Linked DNA regions of Homo sapiens. The protein of the gene in region 1 interacts with the protein of each later gene in a biochemical or structural test. Each region holds a gene or a part of one and is shown in the gene's direction. Other genes may lie near its edges.

The links. The genes of interacting proteins can lie anywhere in the genome.
Region 2: of the proteins of LCK (region 1) and PTPRC, one has a biochemical effect on the other in vitro, tested with the Homo sapiens proteins (5 studies listed by BioGRID and IntAct, with this or other methods).

What each region holds. Positions count from the first base shown.
Region 1 is NC_000001.11:32,268,221-32,271,972, forward strand, and holds part of LCK (tyrosine-protein kinase Lck), read left to right. Parts: intron 1-3,752. UniProt on the Homo sapiens protein: Non-receptor tyrosine-protein kinase that plays an essential role in the selection and maturation of developing T-cells in the thymus and in the function of mature T-cells. Plays a key role in T-cell antigen receptor (TCR)-linked signal transduction pathways.
Region 2 is NC_000001.11:198,636,922-198,640,673, forward strand, and holds the start of PTPRC (receptor-type tyrosine-protein phosphatase C isoform 1 precursor), read left to right. Parts: upstream 1-2,118; 5' UTR 2,119-2,216; intron 2,217-2,304; 5' UTR 2,305-2,347; coding exon 2,348-2,420; intron 2,421-3,752. UniProt on the Homo sapiens protein: Protein tyrosine-protein phosphatase required for T-cell activation through the antigen receptor. Acts as a positive regulator of T-cell coactivation upon binding to DPP4.

The sequences.
Region 1 (3,752 bases):
GAGAGAAATGCAAATGCAGAAAGAGAAATGCAAATGCCTGGCAGTATGTTGGGCTTCTTTTCAAAACTTAAAAAAATTTATTATTATTATTCATTTATTTATTTACTTTAGACAAGGGGTCTTGTTCTGTCACCCAGGCTGGAGTGCAGTGGTGCAATCGTAGCTCACTGTGGCCTTGAACTCCTGGGCTCAAGTGATCCTCCTGCCTCAGCCTCCCAAGCACCTGGGATTATAGGCATGCACCACCATGCCCAGCTAGTTTTTATAATAATAATAATAATAAGAGGCTTGCTTGAGGTGATGGATAGCTCATTTATCCCTTTTGTGATTATTACACATTGTATGCCTCTATCAAAATATATCATGTACCCCATAAACATATATACTTACCAGATACCCATAAAAGTAAATAAATAAATAAGTAAATAAATAAATATACAAAATTAGCCGGGCGTGGTGGCACATGCCTGTAATCCCAGCTACTTGGGAGACTGAGGTAGGAGAATCGCTTGAACCTGGGAGGCAGAGGTTGCGGTGGGCCGAGATCGTGCCATTGCACTCCAGCTTGGGCAACAAGAGCAAAACTCCGTCTCAAAAAAAAAAAAAAAAGAAAAGAAAAGAAACAGGAGTCTAGGGCTGGGCACAGTGGCTCATTGCCTGTAATCCCAGCACTTTGGGAGGCTGAGGTCAGGAGTTCGAGACCAGCCTGGCCAACGTGGCAAAACTCTGTCTCTACTAAAAATACAAAACACAAAATACAAAAATTAGCCAGGCGTGGTGGTGCACGCCTGTAGTCCCACCTGCTTAGGGAGGCTGAGGGAGGAGAGACAGAGCTTGCAGTGAGCCCAGATCACACCACTGCACTCCAGCCTGGGCAACAGAGCAAGTCTAAAAAAAAAAAAAAAAGGAAAGAGAGAAAAGAAACAGGAGTCTAGGCTGGGCATGGTGGTTCACGCCTGTAATCCCAGCACTTTGGGAGGCTGAGGTGGGTGGATCACTTGAGGTCAGGAGTTCAAGACCACCCTGGCCAACATGGTGAAACCCCCATCTCTACTAAAATTACAAAAATTAGCTGGGCGTGGTGACACATGCCTGTAGTCCTAGCTAGTCAGGGGGCTGAGGCAGGAGAATCACTTGAACCTGGGAGGTGGAGGTTCCAGTGAGCCAAGTTCACACCACTGAACTCCAGCCTAGGTGACAGAGTGAGATTCTGTCTGTTTTTTTTTCTTTTGAGATGGTATCTTGCTCTGTCACCTAGGCTAGAGTGCAATGGCGTGGTCTCAGCTCACTGCAACCTCCACCTCCATGGTTCAAGCAATTCTCCTGCCTCAGCCTCCCAAGAAGCTGGGATTACAGGCGCGCACCACCACGCCCAGCTAATTTTTGTATTTTTAGTAGAGACAGGGTTTCACCATGTTGGCCAGGCTTGTCTCGAACTCCTGACCATGTGATTTGCCCTCCTCAGCCTCCCAAAGTGCTGGGATTACAGGCATGAGCCACCGCGCCCAGCCGAGACTCTATTAAAAAAAGAAAAAAGAAAGAAACAGGAGTCTAAAGCAAAGGAGATTAATTACCCAGTCCCATTCTTCCACCTTCCAAAGCAGGAGTTGGTAGGACAGAATTGTGCACTGGTGAAAGTGTTTCTAAGCACTAAACTAAGCTAACATTCATGTGAGCTTATGAGAAATGGATGAAGAGCCCCATTTGACAGAAGAGGAAAAGTGAGGCTTAGGAGGAATGATTTCAGCAAAGTCACACAGTAAGTGTCAAAATTGCTATTTGAACTTAGGTCTCTAACTATGGGGACAGTCTTCTGAGTTTTGCTAATGAGAAACTTCCACTGCTCCCTGCTTCCACTTAGACCCAGCATGAATTCTCTCTCTCTGTCTCTCTTTTGTTTTTTCTTTTTAGACAGAGTCTCTGTCACCCAAGTTGGAGTGAACAGTGCGGTGGCAGTGGCAGGATCTAGGCTCACTGCAACCTCCACCTCTTGAGTTCAAGCAATTCTCCAGCCACCATGCCCAGCTAACTTTTTTTTTTTTTTTTTTTTTGTATTTTTAGTAGAGACAGGGTTTCACCATTGTTGGCCAGGCTGGTTGTCTTGAACTTCTGACCCCAGGTGATCCACCCACCTTGGCCTCCCAAAGTGCTGGGATTACAAGCATGAGCCACCGTGCCCAGCCTGCTCTTTTGAGATGGAGTCTCGCTCTGTCATCCAGGCTGGAGTGCAGTGGCTTGATCTCGGCTCACTGCAACCTCTGCCTCCCGGGTTCAAGTGATTCTCCTGCCTCAGCCTCCTGAGTAGCTGGGATTACAGGCGTGTGCCACCATGCCTGGCTAATTTTTGTATTTTTAGTAGACACGGGGTTTCACCATGTTGGTCAGGCTGGTCTTGAACACCTGACCTCGTGATCCACCCGCCTCAGCCTCCCAAAGTGCTGGGATTACAGGAATGAGCCATCGTGCCCGGACTTTTTTTTTTTTTTTTTTTTTTTTTTGAGACGGACGGAATCTCACTCTGTTGCCAGGCTGGAGTGCAATGGCGCAATTCCGGCTCACTGCAACCTCTACCTCCTGGGTTTAAGCGATTCTCCTGCCTCAGCCTCCTGAGTAGCTGAGATTACAGGCACCTGCCACCAAGCCCGATTAATTTTTGGATTTTTAGTAGAGGCAGGGTTGCACCATGTTGGCCAGGATGGTCTCGATCCCTTAATCTTGTGACCCACCCGCCTTGGCCTCCCAAAGTGCTGGGATTACAGGTGTGAGCCACCGCGCCTGGCCTTTTTTTTTTTTTTTTTGAGACAGGCTCTCGCTCTGTTATCCAGGCTGGAGTGCAGTGGCACAATCGTAGCTCATTGCAGCCTTGAGCTCCTGGGCTCAAGTGATCTTTTTGCCTCAGCCTCCCAAGTAGCTGGAACTACAGGCATGCCCCATCACACCTGGCTAATTTTTTGATTTTTTTTCTAGAGATGAGGTCTCACTATGTTGCCCAGGCTAGTCTGGAACTTCTGAGTTTGAATGGTCTTACTGCCTCAGTCTCCCAAAGTGCCGCGATTACAGATGTGAGCCACCACGCCCGGCCAGCAACTCCAGCTTTGCTCTACTCCAAATAGGTTGTGTGACTTTAAGCATACCTCTGTGGGCCTCAGTTTGCTCATCTAAAATCAGAGGTTTAGCCAGGTATGGCAGCTCATGCCTGTAATCCCAGCACTTTGGGAGGCCAAGAAGGAAGGATCACTTGAAGCCAAGAATTTGAGACCAGTCCGGGCAACATAGCAATACCCCCATCTCTAGAACAAATAAAAAATCACCTGGGCTCAGTGGTGCCAGCTACCCAGGAGGCTGAAGTTAGAGGATCACTTGAGCCCAGGAGTTTGAGGTTCCAGTGAGTTAGGATTGGGTCATTGCACTGCAGTCTGGGCAAGAGAGTGACACTTTATCTCAAAAATAAATCAACAAATAATAAAATTGGAGATTAGGCTTGCTGGTTTCTAAGACCTTTGCAGATGGGAGACTCTATGCATTAACACTGCATGTTCCAGTTGACATTTATTAACTAATTTTGGGTGCTGGTGGCTTTCAGACAAATAAACTACAGCTTCTGCTCTTGATGAACCCCCACTCTCATCAAAGGTATGGGAGAGGCAGTGGGACCCTGGGGCTGACATGTAAATCAGTAATCATGGAACTCTGTGTCTAAGTTGATTATTGAGGTCTGAATAGAATGTTGCAGGAGACTGGGGTGAGAGGGA
Region 2 (3,752 bases), about 170 Mb from region 1:
CCTTTATAATACACAGTACAGATTTTGCTGCTTAAAATTCTAGTATTTCCTATAGACACTAAACTCAATTTTAACACAATGAATATGTTAAAACATTATATATGTGTTGGATTAACACATATAATGCAACTCATTTGTTGCTAATCTATCTTGGATTCCTTGGGTAGAATCTGTCTTCTCACCTGTCTGAAATGGAATTGAATCTCCTAACTTCTTACTATTTTTTTAAAGCCACAAATCCCTTTTAAAATGTCCGTTTAAGGCTGCTAAACTCACATTGTTATAGAGTATATTTTATATACTTTTCTTCCTTTTAAAAGATCATATACACTTTTCTCCTGGCCTCTAATTTTGCCAAATATTCTGCCATAACAGCAAGCTCACAGAACACAAGTATTTGCTTAAAGATATTTAAAGCAAATCCCCAAAGAGTTTTCTGTTGCAAATGTATTTTAAGACATAGGCTGAGGAGCTGAGTATTCAAATCCATGAGTTCTGACACTGATGTTTTATTAGGCCTACCCACATGAAAATTAGTGCTTACTTGCACAGTTATCTTATTTAAAAATACATTTGCAAAAAGAGAATAATTTCATTTTCACTGATTCAAAGGTCTATCTTTTCGAGTATTATAAACTTACATAGTACAAAAAGATTGGTAAAAGGGATGAGAAAAATAAAGGGCAATAGTAAGGTGAGTAAGGAAAGCAAAATTAAACTTGGAGACTTGGGTTCTAAATATAGCTTGTCTACATCCTAGCTGCAAGATCTTAGGCAACTCAACTAACCTCTCTGAACATCACAGATAAAATGGGGAATAATAACATTATCTAGCTCAAGGGTATCGTACAAATTATACAATATATGTAAAGTGCAAAGCATAGTTCCTGCACATAGTAAGTGCTCCATAAGTTAAATATAATAATAATCATAGTAAAATAATATTCTTAACTACAATCTTATTAAAAGGTTATTACCTAGAGTTTAAGCTGTGGGGTTATTTCCATTTGCACAAAGTGTGATAGAAATTTGGCTCTGTAGTTCCTAGCAGCCAATGTAAGAGTAAAACAAAAAAGTTTGTAAGTATCAAAAGATTTATTTACTTAAATATAAGAACCCTACAATAATGCTTCCAAACTAGGGTTTGCAGAATTACCACAAGGGCTCTGTCTGTCTAAAAGTCCCCCAAGCATTATCTATTGTTCAAATAAATGAGTTGCACATGTGTGTACTTTTATTTTTAAAGGCATATAGATATTGTATTAATAAAACCAATTCATCTAATTGTATTGTTGAATTTATACTTTTTGCCAGTAAGCATTTTCCTAATAGATGGACTTAACTAAGAACATCAGAATGGTGAAGAGCATTGTGTTAATACAATTCATTGTCTTATTTGTTAAAAAAGTTGAAAAAGTATTGCTGAGAAAAAGGAAACAAGTTAACTTTTGTTAAAGGTATCTCTTGGTTTTCACTGTCCTTTCCCTCATCAGTAGCGCCAAGAACATCTTAAGTCACAGAAACATTAGTTTTTGGAAGCAGGGTTTGCTGTAACTATAGTAGAAATGACATTCTGATTCCACTCCTAGCTTCACAAGGATATCTGTGAAAGATTTGGGGCAAAACTGTTAAGCTGTCTGAAAGTGCTTTTGCATAAGAAATGGGTTTTACTGCTAAAACTGTCATATTGCTGAGTTTTGAATGCCCTAATGGTAAATGATACTGGGTTGCCAAAAATAACCAGATTAGTAGTTTTTTCATTCATTTGGCCGTCTCAGTAAGTCAAATATTGATACTTTCTACTAAGTCATCTTGCCAACACCCATTTTGTTATACTTATGCTGAATCTGTTTGTCATCTCTTAAGTAAGAAAATTATTGATTATTTTGTGGGGATTTAATTTAAAAAAAATGGTAATGGATACTGTAAAGGAGCATTATTTGGATGGTTTAAAAACATCTTCCTTGATGGGAAAATCTTTTAAAAGGCTTTCTAACTTGGTGTAATTACTTGAATTAAGGAAGTGCAATGCCATTCTACTGACTTAGAACAACTTTTTTGACTTCCTGCAAAGAGGACCCTTACAGTATTTTTGGAGAAGTTAGTAAAACCGAATCTGACATCATCACCTAGCAGTTCATGCAGCTAGCAAGTGGTTTGTTCTTAGGGTAACAGAGGAGGAAATTGTTCCTCGTCTGATAAGACAACAGTGGAGAGTATGCATTTATTTATTTACTTTTACATTTTTGATTCGTTTTTACAGAGAAAAACTTCTACAGAGATAACAATTATTTTGCTTTTCAGAAGGACGCATGCTGTTTCTTAGGGACACGGCTGACTTCCAGATATGACCATGTATTTGTGGCTTAAACTCTTGGCATTTGGCTTTGCCTTTCTGGACACAGAAGTATTTGTGACAGGTAAGTACAAGGATATTAATATTTTTTAAATTATTTTTTCTCTTTTGGAGGAATGTTTGAAATAGACATAAAAATAATTTAAATGTGTTGGTAACTGGAAGTGAGAAGCCTGCTGTAAACCATCAAGATTGTTGTCTCAGGGAGACATAGCTAGTTGTGTGACAGAATACATTGTTTCTGTTTACAAAGACATAAATGTTTCGGGACAAAAAATACAATTTTAAAAGGAAAGCAATGTCTATCTGTATCTTTATTTACAACTGTTCAAAGATATTACAAAAGCAACATTATTACTTAACTTCCAAAGTGACAATAACACACATTTATAAAAGCCTGAGAATTTTTTAATGATAAAATAAGTGAGTTTTTATTCTTTTAACAAATTTGATCTTTTAAAAAGTCATAAAACAGCTTTGGTTGTATGTAAGCCACTCCCTCTTTTCAGACCTGAAGTTTGCTTCCTCAAATTTTGAATTTAATTGACATATTTTATTGAATACTTGGGTATATAATAGTTCAAAAATATATTGAGATATTTAGTAAAATATTAACTTTCTGCAATTTTTATCACAGAATGTATTTTAAATCAAGTTTTTAGTTTCTTGTTAATAGTTTTAATACATTTTTGCTTTAGAAATTCTTGTGGAGCCACCGCCCTTCCTGGGTGGTGGGTAAATATTACAGCCTTGATGAGATAGAAATATTTAAACTCTTAAAAATCATGCAAATGCTGTATTCAGTAGGAAAATGCAACTAGTTGGACTTCCAGTGCCTATTAAAGTTTGAAATCTTTGCACATTTATGGTCTATTCAATGGATAGTTCTTGAGCGGCGTCAATATGAATCATGAGTACATTTCAATAGATTATAGAATGTAACTAATAATTAATATTTAATATTTCTCTTTATGATGTAGTATCTAAAAGGACATTGAAAATAAAATTTTTGTAGAAATTCCAAAAAGTATAAAAAGTATTTTAAAACAACTTGCTTATTACAATTCACTTTGAAGTCTTTTTTTGACTTTTACCGTTCTTCTTTCCTCTGAAAGTCAGGGAAGTAGCTACCTCTTGAGCATGTTACATTGACAATTTCTATTTGGAGAGGAAAGAAAGAGGAAAGAAAAACAACATAAGATTTTTGTTGTTGTTGTTGTGGCTGTTTTGCTTTTTATTGCAAAGGTGAATTTTTTAAAAATCTATATATTTGCAGCATTTGTCTTAGTACAGAAAATGTTTATCAAGTTACCATCCCTTTAAAGCTTATGATAATAAAAAGTAAATTATAAAGAATAATAATCTCAATGAAGTGATATATGTATATTATCACAAA